Linked DNA regions of Homo sapiens: regions 2, 3, 4, 5 and 6 are each reported to be linked to region 1. The links are microRNA targets in miRTarBase. Many come from high-throughput screens and were not tested one by one. Region 1 holds a microRNA gene; each other region holds the end of a gene's coding sequence.

Region 1 (3,000 bases):
GGCCATTCTAAACAATGAAACCAAAAATGTGAAAAATGTGGCACTACACAAGCTGCAAGGAGGACACTTATTTATAGTATGAGGCACAGAGGCAGAGTGTGGCATTGTTCATCCTCAGCTGGGATTGCACGGGTTGGGCGACTCAAACTTTCTGCCCTTGTGTGTGTGTCCATGAATGAGCCAAAGCACGGTGAGTGCCAGCTTTGGGGCTACAGATAAATGTTAGCGAGTGGACGAATTCGCAAATGCAGAATCCGTGAATGATGAGGATCGACTGTACATGCTTGTCGGGGATGCGGATAGTAAATTAGGAAGCCTTTGGGCCCTCAACCGTCTTCTCTGTAGCCTTTGCCCTGGTTGGGAGGGTAGGGCATTTAATGCTGTCCCCTAACCCTCTGGGACTTTGGCAGGAGCTTTTCTCCGCCTCTCCCTCACCACTGCTCTCGCCCCACCGCCCCACCCCCCTGCCACCCTCACACTTGTCCCTGTGCCTGTCACTGACAGAGGGCCAAGTGCTGTCCCAGAGCCAGGCTGCTCCGTGTTTCTGACACCCATGCTAGTGTGGTCCGGTCCTTAATCACCTGAGGTTGGGGGGCTTCAGCCACATTGCAGATCACTTACGGCAAATTAAAATGAAATTCAAGGCTCCCTCCTTCCCCCTAGCCTGGCTTTCGGGCTGCCTCTCTCCCACTCAGGAGCATCCATAGAGCCTGAGCCAAAGAGAAATTTAAAGCCACAGCCGCCACTGCTACCATAAGAAAAATAAGTCAGAAAAGTGTACTTTTCCTTTCCCTTTGCTGCTTTTAAACATTATTTGCATCTTTGGGTTCTTTCCAGGACCCAACAGCAGCTACTCAGAGTCTTCTAAACCAGCAGCCTAGTGGGACCCCTGGCAGTGCAGGGGTTAACACGGTGACCTCCTTAAGCTGCTGAGGTGTCAGGTCTAATTTTATCCTATAACTGGATCTGCCAGTCCTCTTTTTTGCCCAAGTGCTGAGATATATTGGGAAGCCCAGAGTCAGCACTTTTGGTGGCTCAGGAGGCAGCGGGCCCTGATTTTTGCCGAATGCAGAAAGCTAGAGCCTCCTTGCTGCTCGGTCCCAGAGTCAGGCCCTGGGGTGTGAATGGTAACGGCCTGGTTAGTGCTGCACTGGGGCCACCATGCCCCCTCACCTCCTGCTGACTCCCACCCCGAGGTATCCTGTACTGAGCTGCCCCGAGCTGGGCAGCATGAAGGGCCTCGGGGCAGCTCAGTACAGGATGCCCCAGGGAGGATGGAGATCAGAGCCGGCCGCTGAAGCCCCCAGCACCACACACACCTGCTGGAGATGGTCGCACAGCGTCTTCATGTCCCTTCCTCATGGCACGGCACGGCACGGCATGCCCCTGCTCTGTGGCCACACTGCCCCATGCTCACACACATGCACCACAGCCCAGGCCCCGGCCCCAACCCTGACGGTCTCCTGACTTGCAGAAAGCACGTCGTCCACCCCTTAGGCCTGTCGGCTCAGCCCTTTCCTAGAAAGCAAGGGAGCAACGTGTTTCACAAAACACCAAAGAGAAGCTAAGCCTTGGCCTGGTGAGAACTGTAGCTGGGCTCCAGGTTCAAGAGACAGTCCAGTCCTCAGTCTTGGAGCTCTTATGTTGAAGCATCACAGCCCAGACCAACTCTCCTGTCCTCTTCAATGCCCTGTCCACTGCTTTCTAGATCCCCATTGCTTGGTTTCCAAGATAATATTACCACTTAGATTTACAGAGTGCTTTTACTTTTCAAAGAGCATTTTTTTCTTTCTGGCTTTTTTTTTTCTTTTTTTTGTGATGGGGTCTTGCTCTGTTGCCCAGGCTGGTCTTGAACTCCTGGCCTAAAGCAATCCTTTTGCCTCGACCTCACAAAATGCTGGGATTACAGACATGAGCCACTGTGCCCGGCCCAAAAGGCATTCTTACAAAACCGTGCGGTCCCTGATAAGTGGATATTATTAACTCTGTTTCCTTGATGAGGAAGCTGGGGTTCAGAGCCAACTGTTAGCAGGGTTGGGAAGTGAGAATCTCTGCCTCGAGACACAACAACAAGTTGTTTGTCCCACATCATGCTGGGGTGGCTGGGAGGGGATAGGGTGAGACAGGGAGCAGCCACTCCACTGAAGACCAGGCCATGCAGAGGGGATGAGAAGGGCAGCGTTACCTCCCGAGAGGCTACTCCAAGGAGAGCGGCTCGGGGTCACTGTTTCCCCCTTTTCAGGCTGGCCCGCTTCACTATCTGCGCCCCCTTCCTGCCCTCTATCAGGTCCGGCTGTAGGCCACTCCCTCTCAGCTCCACCTGCAGACAGCAGCAGAGACAGAAAGCAGGACAGATCGCAAAGACGGGCAGAACACAGGCAGAAGATCGAAAGGAGGCCACACGGAGGTGGCAGACACACTGCCCACCAGGGAGAAGAGAGACTGGAGAGAGAGCTCATAAAGAGGTGAGTGGAGGGAGGTGTCATGCAGACGGCCCGGCAGAGCAAGGCAGCAGTGATGGCGCTGGGTCCCCCAGGGCCGCGGGCGCCTCAGTACCTTGGAGTGTTTCATAAAGTAATCAATATCGACCTCCAGCTCACTGGGATCCTCCAGGGGCCCCTCTACAGTCACCTCCTCGTGCTCCTGGGCGGCATCGGCGCTGGACAAGTCTATCTGTCGAACCACCTTGCGAATGATCTAGGAAAGGAAGGGAAGGAGGAAAGGGCTGGTCAGGCCGGGCTCGGGGGCTCATGTCTGTAATCTCAGCACTTTGGGAGGCTGACGTGCAGATCATCTGAGGTCAGGAGTTTGAGACCAGCCTGGCCAACATGGTGAAACCCTGTCTCTACTAAAAATACAAAAATTAGCCCGGTGTGGTGGCAGGTGCCTGTAATCCCAGCTACTCAGGAGGCTGTGGCAGGAGAATCACTTGAACCTGGTGGATGGAGGTTGCAGTGAGCTGAGATTGCATCACTGCACTCCAGCCTGGTTGACAGAGCA
Region 2 (3,864 bases), not on the chromosome of region 1:
GCCTTGATTGCTATGCCATATGACATTCTGTCCTAATGGTTAGAACAAATCTTTATCTGTTTCCACCCACCCTGGGATCCTTTTTACTTGTAGCCCATTCCTGCCCTCTAAAAGAATCCTTCCAACTTCCTATAGGGGCCATTTCATGCAGATATACTCACTTTATATGTATGTTTCTAAAAGCTTTAGTGAAGGCTGAATCCAAGTTTCATGTAGTAGGACAGAGAACAGAAGGCCGAATCCAAGTTTCATGTGGTAGGACAGAGAACGGCAATCTACAAAACTACACCAAGCCTAAGATGGCCCATGTGCCACTTTGTTCATTCATTTATTTATTCAGCAGATATTTATTGAACCACTTGGTCTGGTTTGGTTTTGAACACGCACTAATTCATTTAATTACAACAACTTTGCGATGTAGTTATTGTTATAATCCTCATCCTAAAGGTGTGAGAAACAGAGTTATTAAGTAAGTTGCCAGAAGCCATACAAGTACAAAGTGTCAAGGGGAGACTTTAAGCCAGGTCTCTATTCCATGTTTTGTGTCTGCCATGTTTTCATTCCTGAGCAGAAGAGCTTGGGGAAATGAACTTTTGCTAAGTAAACCCAGTATTTAAATTAAGTCACTATATCTGTGTCTTTTAAGAGCCCCTCCTTTAGCTTACATGGTTAGTTGTATCTTTTTTTTTTTTTTTTTTTGAGACAGAGTCTCACTATGTTGCCCAGGCTTGAGCGCAGTGGCACCATCTCGGCTCACTACAACCTCCGCCTCCCAGATTCAAGCGATTTTCCTGCCTCAGCCTCCCAAGTAGCTGGGATTACAGGTGCCCACCACCATGCCTGGCTTAATTTTTTGTATTTTTAGTAGAGATGAGGTTTCACCATGTTGGCCAGACTGGTCTCGAACTCCTGACCTCAAATGATCCGCTGTCTTGTCCTCCCAAAGTGCTGGGATTATAGGCGTGAGCCATCGCGCCCTGCTGCATTTCATTTTTTTGTATAAAATTTGGTTTGTTCGTTTTTGAGGGGAACCATTCCTTTATGTTGCCCCTTACTGATGCCCAACTAATGTGTTTCTGGTTACTAACAGACCTTCATCCCCCACCCTCCCTAAATTCTTCGGTGTAATCTAAGCGTTATCTGCACCACTTCTGAATAATAAATGTGTTTGAAATGCACACCTACACAACCCTGTCCCACACTGGCCTGTAGGACCTAATCTACCTTCATGTCTTTCAGTTGATTTGTATTTCTGCAAAAGATATTTCAAGGATTATCAAGGTATGGAATTTTTTTTATTTTTTATCTTTTAACAAACTTGTTCATTTCCTTTTCTTTCCATTGAGCACCTCTGAACAATGTGATTCTTTTTTTTAAGTCTTTCACACTTCAGGAAAATACTACATTCACCCACGTTGTGATTCATATCGGACAGTTTCTTACTCAAAGATAACACAAATACCAATTCTTATTCATACTTTGAAACTATATTTTACCCTAGACTGCCTTGGTTCAAAGGCCTAGTTTCGACATTACTGTGGCAAATTATTTAAGCTCTCTGTTTTCATTTCTTTTTCTGTAAATGCAGGATGAAAACAATATGTATCTCCTAGGATGGCTGTGAGGAGTGAGTGAGACAGGACATGAAAGGTGTGTATGAACTGTGATAACTGTTGCCCTTGTGGGCATGTTATATAGGGCTGGCTCTAGGAAGAAGCCTGTGTCTTTTTTCAGAAATCCCTGGAGCAACTTAAATGTCTTTAGAAATGACAAGTCTCTCAGTTATCCAGTTAGCCGTAAACAGGTTCTGGAAGACACACCTAGATAGAACTCGGCCCGTCAGTTCTGAGTGAGGCACGTACCACTTGGGCTTGGGATGTCCTTAACCCATTTATGCCTGAGGTTGCAATTTTTTGAATTTTTCCAATCACACCTTGGCGATGACCTTGAGCAGTAGGATATAAATAACTCCCACATGCTTAGTGTTCCAATAATGGAACACTAGGCATAAACAGGTTTTAATTGGCTCCTCAGTCAACCATGACCAATATCTCTATCTCAGCTTCTGCTGATGCCCTAGCTCAGGGCTCTGCATTCCGTGCCAGGGACGCCTCAGCCCCTTAACATGGATGTGCCACATGACAGGCAATAATATATTGGCCCCATTAGCCCTTCCTGGAGCAGTCATAATGAATTACAGTCATGACAGGCACATGTAAGAAACCAAAATTTGCTAAATATGTACATGAGTCTTCATCACAGCATCGTTTATGAAAACAACTAAATATTCACTAATGGTGCCAGTGGAATAAATCAGAGAACATCCCCTGCTACGTAACTCTCTGCATACATCAAAGAGAATGGTGTGGCTTTGCTTTTTCAACAATCTACTGAGTGGCCATGGGCATGTGGATATGGCCATGAATGAGCAAGATCCTCTCTGATCCTGTAGAAGTTAAGTTCTACCAGATAACTTGCTGCTTCAACAAAAAGATTTACCTTTTTAAATAAATGTTGTAGAATACTTAAAAAAAACAAACTAGAATTTGCCTGTGTGCAGCCAGTAACATGTCTATTTAACCTGGACACCTTTTGAGGAATATTCTCAGATTGCCCCCATGCTGTTTATAAGACATTGTTCCTTATACACCTGTTTATGAATGAAAAGAAACATAAGGAGTGGGTACAAAGACTTCTATCTATGAATGATTAAAAAGGCTAGAGTACGAATACTTCTTGAACCTTTGGTACTAAATGCTTTTCATGTTCTATATAAATGTAGAAAACATTTTACAAATCCTGTAAATAAACTGTTTATTTTTTATAGAAAGCCACAACAGAAAATGATTAGTATATAACTAACTATGTAAGAACACTTACATCCATACAATCAACAGATGCTTCAAATGCATATTTTAAAAATAGTTTTGAGTGTTAATTATGGGAGGGCCTTGATGGGATCATTTTGTGAACAGTTCGCTTTTATAACAAACTCAAGAGGCAGCTTGCCAGCGAGCTCTTTTAGACATAAGCATTTTTATCAAACTGTTTTGAAGGGTTTGTTGTTTTAAAATCTTCTCCACCATGATACTTTGTCCGAGAAGACATGACAGATGTGGCCCCGTTGTATGTGTATCTGAAAGGTAAAACATAGTTTGGTAGATTCTATTCTACACATAGGGCAAACAAAAATGGGAAGAAACTGTTTCGGCCTGTCTCTGCCAATATCTAAATGTAAATCTTCCTCTTTCTTAGATAGCTTTCTTCTCTCCTCTTGCCCCAAGAAGTATTTTCAGTGTCATTTCTGAGTGGGATGGAGAATCTCTGCAGAAGAAACTCATGACTTGGTCATTTGTTCAGTTATCCTCTTACAAAACCATGTTTTAAAACTCACCCTCCTGGAAGCTAGGAGACTTAGTAGAGGCCATCAACATTCCTGCCTACCTAGAGGAAAATTATGATGAGGCCAACGTGAAGAACATGTCCTCATATTCAGACCCTTATTTCTACGTTAGAATTTTCTTTGGAATATAGTAATGGTAAAACTTTAAAAAATTAACTGTACTGCTAACCTTTTCCAATTCCGGATTTTGGAAGTTTCTAAGAATCATATGAACTATCTGTAATTTGTTCCACATGTAATGATTTATGATAGCATTCTACTTTTTAACAGGTCATTTTTGTCTCTTTTTCATACCTGGGTGTTTTGTTGTTGTCAGATATTGAAAAGCAAAATATGACACCACCAATTATGCACAGTGAGGCTCCTGCCCATCCAATAAACAGAGCGGCTCCTAATTCATACCTGTGAGAAAGCATTACACAAGTATTACAGCTCACTTATTTGGAGAGTAAACAGTATTT
Region 3 (3,000 bases), not on the chromosome of region 1:
GGGAGGCTCAGTCACTTCACCCTGACATAGGCAGTGCCTGCAATCTCTCATGAATTTTATGTATCGCAGATGAATACGAGGTGGACTGGAGCAATTCTTCTTCTGCAACCTCAGGGTCTGGCGCCCCCTCGACCGACAAAGAAAAGAGCTGGCTGTACACCCTGGATCCCATCCTCATCACCATCATCGCCATGAGCTCACTGGGCGTCCTCCTGGGGGCCACCTGTGCAGGCCTCCTGCTCTACTGCACCTGTTCCTACTCGGGCCTGAGCTCCCGAAGCTGCACCACACTGGAGAACTACAACTTCGAGCTCTACGATGGCCTTAAGCACAAGGTCAAGATGAACCACCAAAAGTGCTGCTCCGAGGCATGACGGATTGCACCTGAATCCTATCTGACGTTTCATTCCAGCAAGAGGGGCTGGGGAAGATTACATTTTTTTTTCCTTTGGAAACTGAATGCCATAATCTCGATCAAACCGATCCAGAATACCGAAGGTATGGACAGGACAGAAAAGCGAGTCGCAGGAGGAAGGGAGATGCAGCCGCACAGGGGATGATTACCCTCCTAGGACCGCGGTGGCTAAGTCATTGCAGGAACGGGGCTGTGTTCTCTGCTGGGACAAAACAGGAGCTCATCTCTTTGGGGTCACAGTTCTATTTTGTTTGTGAGTTTGTATTATTATTATTATTATTATTATTATTATATTTTATTTCTTTGGTCTGTGAGCAACTCAAAGAGGCAGAAGAGGAGAATGACTTTTCCAGAATAGAAGTGGAGCAGTGATCATTATTCTCCGCTTTCTCTTTCTAATCAACACTTGAAAAGCAAAGTGTCTTTTCAGCCTTTCCATCTTTACAAATAAAACTCAAAAAAGCCGTCCAGCTTATCCCATCCTCTGATTGTCTTCTGACTTAAGGGATTTACTGTGGTGTAGGTTCTGCCAGCCAACCCTACAAGCTGCCATTTCCAGTCCTAGCATTTAAGTAGGATGTTGTTGCCTTTAACTTTTCTTATCCAGGGGAAAATTGCCATTTTAGGGTCAGCATGAACAGCTCTTTCTTGTATGCGATTTAAAACAAACTGGAAAGGAAACTTCACACGTCAAAATCCATAGAAGCGCCTGGACGAGGCTTAAAGTGCTTTGTGAGTGAATAGGAGCCATTCGCTAATTCTAGACCCACAGTGTCTGGTGGTGGGGCTTCCCTTGTGGGGCTTCTGGTGGTGGTTTTGCCTTTTCTTTTCCCTCCTCCATGTTCTTCTAAAACATATACATATATACATACACACATACACATATTCTTCAGGTCTCTAAGCCCCTGGAAGCAGCATTGTGTGATATTCTCAGAGGCAGGGGAAAATAGAGGGAAAAATAGAGACTATTGGTATGTTCTCCCCATCAGCGAGTTATTGTAACTGGTCACCACTGGACGGGAAGGAGAACAGAGGAGAGGGAAAGAGAAGCCCAACCTCTGTGATCATATGAGGGCCAAGGCTGAGCAGTGTAGACAGAGACCCTTTGAAATGCATTTGTCTCTCAAATAGACTAGTAAACACCGACTTCTCCTTTGGGTTACAAACACCATTTCAACCTTTCGGGAGAGTCAGAGCTAGGATGTACAAGAACTGATTCTAACCAGAAGTCCGCAAGTACTGTGGACAAGAATGCTTAACCATGCTGCTTCAGCCTTGAGAGACCTAGGTTCTTACACATATGCACACACGCATACACACATGCACGCACACACACATACACACATGCACGCACGCACGCATGCACACCAATTTATGTTTTTATTAAGTGCCTTGAAAAAATGAAGAAAAATGTATTTTCCCTTTATGTAAAAATTAGTGAATATCTTATGAATTAAGGCATTCCTCTTTCCCTAACCCCGATGGCTCCATTCCCAAGTACCCCAACTCACTGCTGATCCTATTAAAGGAATGAGTCCTGCTACCCGAGTGGTAGTCATAGCCCTAGATGACTCTCAACTACTCTTCAAAGGGAGGCATCAGGAATAGAATGAAACTGTGTGAAGGATAAGATTGTTCGCATCAAGATCCAAATCTTGATTTCATATTAACGCCTAAGGATTGCCTGTGTGCTGGAAATATATTTGAAACTCAACCAGTATGCCCAGCCTATTGCATATCATTGTCAGACCATTTTTGCTGCTGTGGTCACCCACGATTTCATTTGTCTTATACCCAGGTGAAAGGGGAAGGGTGAATGGGACTGGCTGGTTCCTTTAAATGTTAACTTATGGAAATGCTAGTTCAAATGGTAATGTCACAGTGTTTTGTATGCAGAGAGCAAGAGTTCAACCAACAGCTGTTTATTCATGTGTGTGTGTCTTTGCTGCTTTGAGTTCTCTGTATCTACTGTGTATGTGAATGGTCATGTGGGACTCAGTGGTGGTGTTGTGACTTTGACCTAGGGTCCGAGTGTCACAGCTGATCTTGGCACTCGGCACTCATTGGCACAGTGGTAGTTAGAGGTGAAAAGTAGAGCTGTCAAGCCCAAGGGCTTAGCTTTAGGGCTCCTCCTGAGTTCGGCCCACAGTAGAAGCAAGATTTTAACTAGCCCCTTTTCCTCTTCACCCTCCCATGATGCGCAGTGTTCAGAAAGCTGGTAAGTCCTAGGGATTTCCAGAAGTAGCCTGCAGAAGAAGGTAAGTTTGAAAGCCACTCCAGGGGTCCTGATGCTGTCATGCTCAGTGAGCCATTTTACAGTTCTCCAAAGTCTAGCCCTGTTTCGGACCTGCACTTCACCTCTAAGTTATGTACAACTCAACCTGCATCCCTCTAAAAGTCCTATATCCATATTCACCATTGGCTAATTTGAGGCCCTGAGTGGGCCTTGAATGCTAAAAAGAAGCAGGGTACGCAGGGCTACATGTAGATACCACACCAAGGCTGGAGGCTGGTCTGTCATAAGACAGAAAGAAAGACGCTGGGCCCAATTTTGACTTGGCCAGGGGACACCTTGGTGTGTTTGT
Region 4 (3,864 bases), not on the chromosome of region 1:
CTCACAGTAGTCAAAGAAGTTACATATACAATTAGAATTTGTTGTTTCTGTTGCCAGAAACTCAATACAATTTGTCACATCAGGAAAGGTTTTTTGTTGTTATTGTTGTTGTTTTTGAGACGGAATTTCACTTCACTCTTGTTGCCCAGGCTGGAGTGCAATGGCGCGATCTCGGCTCACCACAACCCCCACCTCCCAGGTTCAAGCGATTCTCCTGCCTCAGCCTCCCAAGTAGCTGGAATTACAGGCTTTGTCACTACGCCTGGCTAATTTTGTATTTTTAGTAGAGATGGGGTTTCTCCATGTTGGTCCTGCTGGTGTCGAACTCCCAACCTCAGGTGATCCGCCTGCCTCAGCCTCCCAAAGTGCTGCGATTACAGGCGTGAGCCACTGCACCTGGCCCAGGAAAAGTTTTTTACATACGAATTAAAGATGCTTCTTTATGCAAATTTTTAAACCCCAGGTTTGAAGTAGGATAAAAGGTAACATTAAATCTGAGATCATTTCTAGCTCTGGAATTCTGTGATTGTAATGAGTTTTGATTTCTAAATGTTTTTTCCTTTCATAATTTCAGGGTTAGTCAGCAACATAAAATCAACCTAATGACAGCAGACAACTTATCCATCTGTTTTTGGCCAACCTTGATGAGACCTGATTTTGAAAATCGAGAGTTTCTGTCTACTACTAAGATTCATCAATCTGTTGTTGAAACATTCATTCAGCAGTGTCAGTTTTTCTTTTACAATGGAGAAATTGTAGAAACGACAAACATTGTGGCTCCTCCACCACCTTCAAACCCAGGACAGTTGGTGGAACCAATGGTGCCACTTCAGTTGCCGCCACCATTGCAACCTCAGCTGATACAACCACAATTACAAACGGATCCTCTTGGTATTATATGAGTAGGAAGTGATTGCAAACAGGCTGGATTTGGACAAAAAGCAAATCTAGACATGCATGTTTCAGGGTTCAGTAGTATACTTCATGTTTCATACAGATAATTCACATTCAAAATTACATTTTCTCTTTGAACTAGATGGTATTCCTTATTCACTTACATTACAAATCTAAGACCATGTGATAAGCATGACTGGAGAGGTTTAATTTTTATAAACAAAAATAGCTATAAAGTACAAAGCTGCTGCTGCATGCAACCTTATTGCAATCAGTATATCATTCCTGTGGCAATTTCTGTCACCTTATATTGTGAATAAAATTTTTCTATAGAAATTAAATGATTTAAAAACTCACCTATATGAAACATTTAATGCTTTTCAGCCTGCTTTCTGGCTGATTTTGTTATTTGATGTGCTAATTTGGGCAACTTAATTTACATTCTGGCAGTCGGTGTAGATAACTAAAAGCCCAGTTAAGTATTTTATAATTTCAGGCTACTGAGGCCATGCTTGGGATGTTGTTTGAAAGAAAGAAAAAATACACTTGACATATTTCACATTTCTGTACCTTCATCTTTACTTCCAAGTAAACCCGTGGATGATTTGATGAGGGATAAATGAACCTATTTCTTTTACACACATACCAAGGACATGCTTGTGGCTAAAGTGAGTTGATAATGTTGTGCAAAGGATAGTTGTCACCAACTCATTTCTTTATGGTCCATAATGAAATAAAAATTTTGTATACTGTTAATTCTGTAAACAGATGCATGTTCAAAAGATCTATGATGGTCTTGTAATCTTAATCTAATATATTTTAGATATTTTAATTTTTTCCCTCTTGGGGAACACATTTAGTATAGTGTAGAAAATACTTCCATGACATTTTCATATAAGGTTATATAACTTTTCATACATAAACATGAAATTTGTTGTAGAAAATTCTTTAAACCAAACATTTAAATCTAGGACTTCAATTTAATTTGTTCCTTGAATCTATTTTTATGTGGCCCTTAAAAAATATCCAAAAAACCCATTGCTAATATAGCAATAAAAATACTTTGGGTACTGACAGACTCTTTGGAGTGTTTATATTACAAATTTGTATTCATATTCTTTTCTGTGATGTGTTGTACTAAAATCCAAAATGGCTTTTGCACCATTTTTAAGCCAATTTTTTCCTTTGATGTTGGTACCAGAATTACTATAAGTGACTGCTGCTTTTGGGGGTAAACATTTTGTTAGTGAAGATAAAACCAGAACACTAAATTATGGATAAAATTTTCAGAATAGGTGGCACAGGTAAATTTCACTAGGTTATATTTTGTGTAGTAAAGAAAAAAATTATTTGGTCAATGTTATCTTAATTCATACTACAATTTAAGATTATCTTATGTGTATTATAGTAAATAGATGATTTTCAGATTCAAGGCTCCTAAGAGTTTGATTTGCTCTGTTTTTTCCTAAAATAAATATTGTCTCTCCCAACTGTTAAGTTCTAGGTATTGTACTTCCAATTTTAACTTCAGAACCAAGATGTTGGCATGAACCAGGCTGCTGTTGAAGTACATGTATATTATAAATTATCTTATTTGTGTTATACTCTTACATGTTATCTTTTCTAAGAAAACAAAGTCCCTATTATTCCTATTGCAAAGCACACAGGAATTAAGAAAGTACAGTAATTTTTAAAAAAAAATCCGGTAAATGTAGTATTCTTAACCTGTTCTATATTACTTATACCTATTGTCTATATAGCTTTAATTTATAGTTGTCAGTTTAACTATTGGCATGTCTGGCAAAGAAAATTAAACTTTAAGAGTTTTATAAACTGTTTCTAGGTTGCTAAAGAATTTATTTTTCTACTATATATGGTATAGACAAAGCATCAAACTATGTACAGGAAAAAAGCCTGACTATTTCTATTTGGAAGTAGGCTGAAAAGAGAATTTTCAAAACTGTTCGTGTCTTCAGTTCATTCTGTCATAACTTTGCTATTGTAATATGTGAATACCAGTTTATTTAAGCTGTTCTCTTTTATACTGTATTAATTTAATGTTCATCTGCGTTTAGTACCATTTTTGTTATTAAAACTGGCATTTACCGTTTTTCACATTAACCCACCTTGCACCTTCCCCCAAACTTATCTCCACTTTTCTATGCATTCTATCATTGATTTGACACACTTCATAGTGAGTCATTTAAATACTCTACGTTTGGTTCAATTAACCAGTAGGTTACAGTTATTGAAAATTAAAGTACAGTTTAAAGCTCAGTCTGTTACACTGAATTGATTGTGTTTGTTTTTGCCAAGGGTTTAGATATGCTTTTAAATATTAGAAACATCTAAGAACAGAATAACATAATTAAACTTTTTTCTGGTAAGTTACTGGAAGGTTTCACTGTTTAGGGACCTATCATATGAGACTTCTTAAAGGATTAAAAGAATAGGATAGTCTCATAATTGTGAGTAAACATCAAGGCATTATATTTTACAATACTGAATAAAATTTCATCTACACACATGTTGCCATTGTTTCATTTAAGGTTCAGTGCTTATAGTTAACTACAATATTGGACCTAACAGGATCTAGATTAGCAATATAAAGAAGCATAGTGGTACTCTGTTTCACACTTTCAGTAGATTTATTAGAAGTCAAATTCTATTCAACAGACACTTATTAGGATATACAACTAATTTAAGAATAAAATTCCAGGCACAATATATTTTTTTTAAATGGTATTTGTTAGTAGTGCTTCTTCCCCTTAACATTTACAGTGTAAATACTGCAGGTAACCGCAATCTAAGTTAGCCAAAAAGCAGCTTTTTTTCCCATACTGTATGTAAATAATGTAGACCTGGGTTTTTTTGTTTATTTGGGTTTGTTTTTTTTTTTGAGGTACTGGAATCTAATTAATATCTCTTAGGTATCAACAAAAGGGAACAATTGGAATGAGAATTTAGGCC
Region 5 (3,864 bases), not on the chromosome of region 1:
CTTACAGAAAAAGACACTGAGTCTCAGAAAAGTTAAGGCACCTTCCCAAAACCATACCATATGCAAGTAGTAGGACCAAGAGTCAAATCCATTTTTGCATGACTCTGAATCCTGTGCCCATGACCACTCTATGCAATGTTAATTAATATACAGTCTCACCTGGGTAGGGATGCTTGTGGTACAGGAGTAAAGATTGGAGAACAAACCTTCAACAAGCCTGGTAACAAGAAACCCTCATGCTTTGGGAGCGCTGCCTGGTAGGTTTGATTGGTACACAGATTTAGACCCCTCCCATGGCCCTAGAGGCCACTCAGGAACACTTATAAGGGCAGTAGGTCACCACAGCTCTCCGTAATCCCCTATCCAACCCCAGGAAAGATAGTAAACAATGCAGGGAACCCCAAGAGCATTAGTAATGCCCAGTTCTCCTCTGGGGTAATTTGAACCGACTAATTCCCTTGTTGAAGAAGGCAGATTCAAAAGCCTATTCACTATATAATTCCATGTCCATGACTTTGGGGAAAAAGCAAAGCCGTAGGTATAGGAAACAGATCAGTGGTGGCCAGAGACTGGAGGGTGGGGGTAAGAGTTGTCTATAAAAAAAACACAAGAGAACATTTCAGGGAGGATGGAAGTGTTTTATGTCCTAATTGTGGTAGCCTTTACATGACTATACACTTGTCAAAACTCATTGAATTGTGCACTTAAAACTGGCAAGTTTTACCACATGTGAATTATACCTTATGTAATTTATGTTTATAATATATATATGTAAATTTCAAAACAGGCAGTAGCTGATGAATCTGGAGCTAAATTTCCCATTGTGTAACTGCACTGCGGTAAACCCAGGAGCCTGAATCCCTGAGTCCTTCAACCTTCCCTGCAGGGAGATTTCCTGCAGGCAGCCACTGCAGGCTGATACACCACGTCCAGTGAGAAAGAGGCTGGGAAGTGAATTTTTTCAGGCAAATGCTTCTGTAGCAGTTCAAATAAGAAGCTGATTGCTAGGGTTACCTTGGCTTCCTGCCTCCTTTCCTGAATCTTCAGAGGTCATACTGTGTACTTGGTACAAAACATTGATCTGGAAAACTGCCTAGAGCCAGATTAAATATAACATCCTGGTTTTTAACTTGTATCTCACATGACATACATGTCTTTATCTTCATATCTTGTTGCATTTTGAAGGGCATACCTGTCTCTACACTCAGCCCTGAAGAGATAGGGAAAAATCTTACTAAAATACTAAATATTATAGCTGCCATCTGTCTCAAAAAGTTTGGCAAGGATCCAAAATGAGCATTTCAGTAAGACTAACTACATCAGTCCACTGTGTCCTTCCAGCTCTAGGTCACCTGTCTTCTTACATATTCTCTTTGGTAAAGGTACTTCTCTTCCTGGTATAGCCAGTTAGTCCTTTTGCTTTCTGCCCAAGTCCTCCTGTCTGGGGAAGATCCAGAGGCTTCTGATCCATGTTCATAGCTCAATTGGAAAAGGAACATAAGCTACATAAATGTAGTCTAGCATTGGAAATAATCAGATCAGTCATGCAAATTAATAAGTACATAAGGTCATATCCCAAAAGATAATAGGGCAGTCATGTACAATAAAAGCTGCCAGAAAGAGTGGATTTTAAAGGGAAAGAAAAATGAAAGAGCCAGCCTAACTCTGGGCTCTTATAAAAGTTATTGATGTGATCTGTTGTTAGGTGTGCAATCTCCCCGCACTAGTGTTTGGGAGGTAGCCATTCTCCCAACCTCATAGCAAGATATGGACTACCCTGTTAAGAGCTTTAAAAAAAAATTAAAATTAAATAAAACAAAAGATGACTTTTTTCAAAGCACATTTTAATCATTTATTTTAAAAGGGGGAGTAAAGCATTTAAACTGCCAATCCTATAGACTAGGACTTGAACATCAAAGGAAAAATAGACAAAGACTAGATGATAAAGTCATTCAAAAGCACAGAAGCACATCACATACACCAGCAAGGTTTCCAACTACTGCACTGATTAACTAGATACTCTCAATAGCTTTTCTATAGCTCGTCCTAGAAAAAAAAATTAAATTTTCATTTTCTTACAAGTTCCAGGCTTAAACAAAGGCAAAAATTACATGCAACAACTGATACACTCATAAGTTGCACATATGCTCCAAGGTCTTTATTAGATAACAATAAATGCTAGCACTTTGTCACTGCCATCAGATTTTCTTATAGTCTTAGAGTCATGTAAATAAAAGTTCATAATGAAATTAAAGAAAATTAATTTTTCTAATCTTAGATCAGTTCCATAGAAAACTATTAATTTTTTTAAAGTAGGCAGTAGAAGGGGGTTGGTGGGGGGTGGAATTGGTTAGTAAGTCTGGTTCTAATCTTCTGAGCTGCCTTTGGAAGGAAGTTATGAGGTAGAAGATTCTACTGACTTTTAGTAAGGTGGACAATGAGAGAAAAGAAAAAGCAGGTGCCTCATCTACAGATCCTTCTGGGATTTATTTGCCATGTACAATTTAATGCATAAAAAGGCCTCTCTCCATAAAACTCAGCACTTTACAGATGTAGAATATATAAGCATGCCAAATTTACTTATCTGCCACATACAAAGCATCATTCCAGGTGCTAGTGAGGGGAAAAAAAAGTTGGAGATTTGGTCCCTCGAGGAGCTCCAGATATTAATCTACCTAACTAAGTCCCCAGGTTTCTTCCAGGCATGGAAGAATTAGTGGTGCTACATGGATGAGGACTAGTCATTGGGCAATATTTCCTGTACAAAGAATCCCTAGACGCCATACTGAGTTTTAAGTTCCTTAATTCCTAATTTAAGGCTTCTAGTGAAGCCTCCTCACAGTAGGCTTCACTAGGCCCACAGTGCCCCTAGACCTCTGACAATCCCACCCTAGACAGACTTTATTGCAAAATGCGCCTGAAGAGGCAGATGATTCCCAAGAGAACTCACCAAATCAAGACAAATGTCCTAGATCTCTAGTGTGGTAGAACTATGCACCTAAACATTGCTGCAAAATGAACACACTTTTAGACACCCCTGCAGATATCTAAGTAAGTGGAGAAGACTATTTTTTCAACAAACATTTTCTCTTTCACCCTAACTCCTAAACAGCTTACTGGGGCTTCTGCAAGACAGAAAGATCATAATTCAGAAGGTAACCATCGTTATAGACATAAAGTTTCTGGTCAAAAGGGTTATAGTTAATGCTCTGCACTTTTTCCTGCATCTTATGCATTACAATGTCTAGTTTGCCCTCTTTCCCTGTGTTTGTGTCATAATAGTAAAAAATCTCTTCTGTTCTGGTGTTCATAGTACGGGTGGCATACAGAACCCCACATACCATGAAGGCGTTAGAAGCAGATGGTTTATACTGCTTGGTATACCAAGTGTTTAGCACCTGAAGTGTGGTGTCATTGAGTTTACTAATCACCATGTTACCAGTGCTGGCTTCAGTTGAATAAATAACCCACAATCCATTCTCATCCACAGCAAAGTCAATATCTTGCCAAGCAACATTAGCATATGAAAAGCGGTTATTATAGGCAGCATTAGGGAGAGTTTGAGTCACAGCAATCGTGTTGGTGGTCAGGTTAACTCTGGCAATATTCCCGGTGTTGTACATGTTGACGTACATGTTGTTGTTGTAAACTGCTGTACCACTACCTTGGCCATAGGTGATCCGCAACTCTCGAGCATTTATATACAATAGCAAATCATCCAGTGTGTTGTACAGTCTATAATACTCCAACAGTCTCCCATCTGTATTCAATGGCGCCACCCAATACAGTCCTTTGTTTGGATGCTGGGGAGAGTAATCCCTACCCCAAGCACCATATAGATAAGAAAACCCTCTCCAGTTGAGC
Region 6 (3,815 bases), not on the chromosome of region 1:
CGCCCGCAGCTCCTGCCGCCCAGGAGACCAAAAGTGACGGGGCCCCAGCTTCAGACTCAAAACCCGGCAGCTCGGAGGCTGCCCCCTCTTCCAAGGAGACCCCCGCAGCCACGGAAGCGCCTAGTTCCACACCCAAGGCCCAGGGCCCCGCAGCCTCTGCAGAAGAGCCCAAGCCGGTGGAGGCCCCGGCAGCTAATTCCGACCAAACCGTAACCGTGAAAGAGTGACAAGGACAGCCTATAGGAAAAACAATACCACTTAAAACAATCTCCTCTCTCTCTCTCTCTCTCTCTCTCTATCTCTCTCTCTATCTCCTCTCTCTCTCTCCTCTCCTATCTCTCCTCTCTCTCTCTCCTATACTAACTTGTTTCAAATTGGAAGTAATGATATGTATTGCCCAAGGAAAAATACAGGATGTTGTCCCATCAAGGGAGGGAGGGGGTGGGAGAATCCAAATAGTATTTTTGTGGGGAAATATCTAATATACCTTCAGTCAACTTTACCAAGAAGTCCTGGATTTCCAAGATCCGCGTCTGAAAGTGCAGTACATCGTTTGTACCTGAAACTGCCGCCACATGCACTCCTCCACCGCTGAGAGTTGAATAGCTTTTCTTCTGCAATGGGAGTTGGGAGTGATGCGTTTGATTCTGCCCACAGGGCCTGTGCCAAGGCAATCAGATCTTTATGAGAGCAGTATTTTCTGTGTTTTCTTTTTAATTTACAGCCTTTCTTATTTTGATATTTTTTTAATGTTGTGGATGAATGCCAGCTTTCAGACAGAGCCCACTTAGCTTGTCCACATGGATCTCAATGCCAATCCTCCATTCTTCCTCTCCAGATATTTTTGGGAGTGACAAACATTCTCTCATCCTACTTAGCCTACCTAGATTTCTCATGACGAGTTAATGCATGTCCGTGGTTGGGTGCACCTGTAGTTCTGTTTATTGGTCAGTGGAAATGAAAAAAAAAAAAAAAAAAAGTCTGCGTTCATTGCAGTTCCAGTTTCTCTTCCATTCTGTGTCACAGACACCAACACACCACTCATTGGAAAATGGAAAAAAAAAACAAAAAAAAAACAAAAAAATGTACAATGGATGCATTGAAATTATATGTAATTGTATAAATGGTGCAACAGTAATAAAGTTAAACAATTAAAAAGAAGTAATAAAGACTATTGGGTTTTTTGTTCTGTTTGTTTTACTTTTCTAGTCCCCTTCAATAACTACTTTATCAGAGAACAGAGCACTGTATTGGCCATTTTTCTGAATATATTTGGATAGAAGTAAAAAAATAGACCAGGGACGGTGGATCACGCCTGTAATCCCAGCACTTTTGGAGGCCGAGGCAGGTGGATGGCTTGAGCCCAAGAGTTGAGGACCAGCCTGAGTAAGATAGTGAGACCCCACCTCTATTTAAAAAAAAAAAAATGCCAACATTATTTGTTGAAAAAAATAGCTAGGGCAATGTCAGTAAACTATCTCAGAAGAAGTTAAACTGAAAACTTACTGCATCTATGCATATGCACCCTCTGAAAATGTAACTAATTAAGAAGAAGAAAGATTTTGAATAAAACACGTTAAAAGACAATAAATAGATTTGATCTTGAAGGCTGGGGAAAAAATGAATGACAGGATCTTATAGAAACCTGTGTTTGTAAATTGTGGCACCACTAATGGTTATTCTGTTCTATCCCATCCCCTATTTTTATTTTTATCATATTCATGGTAGAGCCAGGAAAGGCCACCTGAGAATTGTGCTATGAGACAGCAGTGATGCGGAAGCAAGCATGGAGCCGGCCTTTATGGTGACCGGATTTCGGTCCTGATTTTGCCACTAGTGACTTGGATGGGTTTTAAGTCACTTCCAACCTTCCCAGACCTTCCTTGCTTTACTTACAAAAGGGTGTAGCCTTTATGATCTCTGAGGCAAGGTCCCATTTAATGGTTTGGGTACATACCCGGTGACAATTTAATGTCACGATGCATAGGTATGCACAGACTGATGGGATGTCTCTTCCATGTCTTGATTCTCCAAAACTCACAGAGTAATGAATAACAATTTCATAGTTTAGAAAACTCCGACATAGGAAATGTCCTGTGGAATGTGTGAAGGCCAGTGTAATGGAATTGATTCTCAAAGGGACATTAATGACACAATGGATTCAGACGAACCTGGTTCCATTCTTACGGGTTACATTACACATGGTTAAATAAAAAAGGGAAAAAAATCTTTGAGTATTTTGGGAGTAGCCTATAGTCTGTCTCTTACCTCATTGGGAAAGAAAAAGTGGTGAAAGTGAGGATTATGTAAGTATTATACCCGTTGGGTTCAACTGGTATTTATGATCATTTTTTGGCACTTTGGGTTCTTGTTTCTATAGTGAGATAAATTTGAATTCTTAATGCTTGAAAGCACAGCATACAAGAAATCTGTAAACACAGTAACCACCAGGCAACTGTTTTACATAAGGAAAAAGAAGGGGAATGTCCAGGTAATTACCCGCGTGTCCTCGCATATACAAAATAGCTTGGGGGCCGGTGATGGTGATGGAGTGGTAAAAGATTCAGTGAACCATGGAGGACATTTATATAGTTACTGATTAAATGCCATGCATTTATTGCAGAAAAATATGCTTGGTGGAAGTAATATTTTATATATTCACTGTCTTCCCCACTTCCCCTTCTTCTAATAAAAAAAATGCTAAGCTTTTTGGTAATTAGAACAATCAAATCAGCCTCCCAGATTAGCATTTATTACTACAAATTGCCATTTTTTGAATAAATGAAACTGAGACATTTTTCTGAATTTATTTGGAGTTGCAGAGTAGGAGAATTAAAATCTGAGCTATATATATTTATTTTTCTTTTTTATAACTCCATTAGGTGTTGAAGCAACTAAAAAGTGTTAGAAATATAGTCACCAAAATGTTTAAATCAGAATTTTAACCTAGCCATGGTTCATGACATTGAATTTTACCATACTGAAGAAAAAAACTTGAGCTGTAGTTTGAAGTTGTATATGCAGCAGAAAATGTAGTACGTGTGGGAGTAATTGGCTCAGCCAGGAAGGGAACAATGTTGGGCCATGTTAATTTGGATTAACCTAGATTGTTCTTGCCTCATGAATGATTTAAAATGAAGAGAAGGGACTGCACAGCCTGTGCTGAACAGGCAAGTCAGAACCATCGGGGAACTTACCGCATATTTGCTTCACTAACTTAGGCATGTCCCTCTCCTCTATGAAGAATGAAGTGTTCCAGGGTCTAACGTTCATTTACTGGGTGCCTTTGTGCGTACTGCAAGGAGGAAACTATGAGGAATCCAGAGGAACTTGTACAGGGATGCCAGGCTTGTCCCTCCACTTTGAAGATTCTTTTCCGTAGCTGATGCCGCCTCTGCATGATGGGAATGGACTCTGGTCCCCAAGAGCTGGCATGTGCCATGCATCCCAGGATGGCCCTTCCTGGTCTCAACCCTGAGAGAAGGCCATCTTCAGTCTGTTCCTGGCAATATGGAGGCAGAGGTGGTACTGGCACTCCCGGAATGTCATTCCCCAGTCTTGGAGAATCTTCTTTCTCTCTGGAATCAAGACGTAGGTCTAGTGGACAGTAAGGACTTGGTTGTCAACTACTTGCGCTGACAAGACCTAGACATACTTTAGCTGGGTAACTTCTTTACCTAAGTTGGGTAAATCATTAGGTACCAGCATAGCCAAGAGTACTTACTGCATTGCTAACAGGAAGTTTGTTTTCGTAAAGCATCCTGGGACTTTAATTTTCCTTGAATGAAACATCATGGTATAACAAAACACAGTAT

Evidence for each region. The annotated mature microRNA hsa-miR-486-5p reads UCCUGUACUGAGCUGCCCCGAG and lies in region 1 at 1,200-1,221, shown strand. An mRNA with a match to its seed (bases 2 to 7 or 8) in the 3' UTR can be bound and repressed. Matches are read on the target gene's strand: a 7mer-m8 pairs with bases 2 to 8, a 7mer-A1 pairs with bases 2 to 7 and ends in A, and an 8mer does both.
Region 2: the mRNA of CLDN10 is a reported target of hsa-miR-486-5p. Seed matches in the 3' UTR shown: 7mer-A1 at 2,798-2,804 and 7mer-A1 at 2,445-2,451.
Region 3: the mRNA of NRP2 is a reported target of hsa-miR-486-5p. The part of its 3' UTR that is shown has no 7-base or 8-base seed match.
Region 4: the mRNA of ARHGAP5 is a reported target of hsa-miR-486-5p. Seed matches in the 3' UTR shown: 8mer at 2,794-2,801.
Region 5: miRTarBase lists OLFM4 as a target of hsa-miR-486-5p. Seed matches in the 3' UTR shown: 8mer at 2,757-2,764.
Region 6: miRTarBase lists BASP1 as a target of hsa-miR-486-5p. Seed matches in the 3' UTR shown: 7mer-A1 at 409-415.

The regions. Positions count from the first base shown.
Region 1 is chr8:41,659,245-41,662,244 of GRCh38, forward strand. MIR486-2 (microRNA 486-2) reads left to right here and starts at 1,200; the gene lies at 1,200-1,263. ANK1 (ankyrin 1) reads right to left here. Exons shown (of 43, transcript NM_000037.4): 41 at 2,632-2,697; 42 at 2,186-2,320. The coding sequence ends at 2,222. It overlaps MIR486-1 (microRNA 486-1), which reads right to left and starts at 1,264; the gene lies at 1,197-1,264.
Region 2 is chr13:95,577,172-95,581,035 of GRCh38, reverse strand. CLDN10 (claudin 10) reads right to left here. Exons shown (of 5, transcript NM_006984.5): 4 at 3,698-3,805; 5 at 1,277-3,136. The coding sequence ends at 3,022. DZIP1 (DAZ interacting zinc finger protein 1) reads left to right here. Exons shown (of 23, transcript NM_198968.4): 23 at 1-2,834. Among named protein-coding and RNA genes, the nearest start is that of CLDN10, 26 kb to the right of the region's middle.
Region 3 is chr2:205,794,685-205,797,684 of GRCh38, forward strand. NRP2 (neuropilin 2) reads left to right here. Exons shown (of 17, transcript NM_003872.3): 17 at 70-3,000. The coding sequence ends at 374. Among named protein-coding and RNA genes, the nearest start is that of NRP2, 110 kb to the left of the region's middle. RefSeq lists an enhancer at 1,881-2,382.
Region 4 is chr14:32,154,047-32,157,910 of GRCh38, forward strand. ARHGAP5 (Rho GTPase activating protein 5) reads left to right here. Exons shown (of 7, transcript NM_001030055.2): 7 at 575-3,864. The coding sequence ends at 902. Among named protein-coding and RNA genes, the nearest start is that of RNU6-7, 46 kb to the right of the region's middle.
Region 5 is chr13:53,050,021-53,053,884 of GRCh38, reverse strand. It overlaps OLFM4 (olfactomedin 4), which reads right to left. Exons shown (of 5, transcript NM_006418.5): 5 at 1,828-3,864. The coding sequence ends at 3,114. Among named protein-coding and RNA genes, the nearest start is that of OLFM4, 23 kb to the right of the region's middle.
Region 6 is chr5:17,275,674-17,279,488 of GRCh38, forward strand. BASP1 (brain abundant membrane attached signal protein 1) reads left to right here. Exons shown (of 2, transcript NM_006317.5): 2 at 1-1,161. The coding sequence ends at 227. Among named protein-coding and RNA genes, the nearest start is that of BASP1, 60 kb to the left of the region's middle. RefSeq lists an enhancer at 1-461.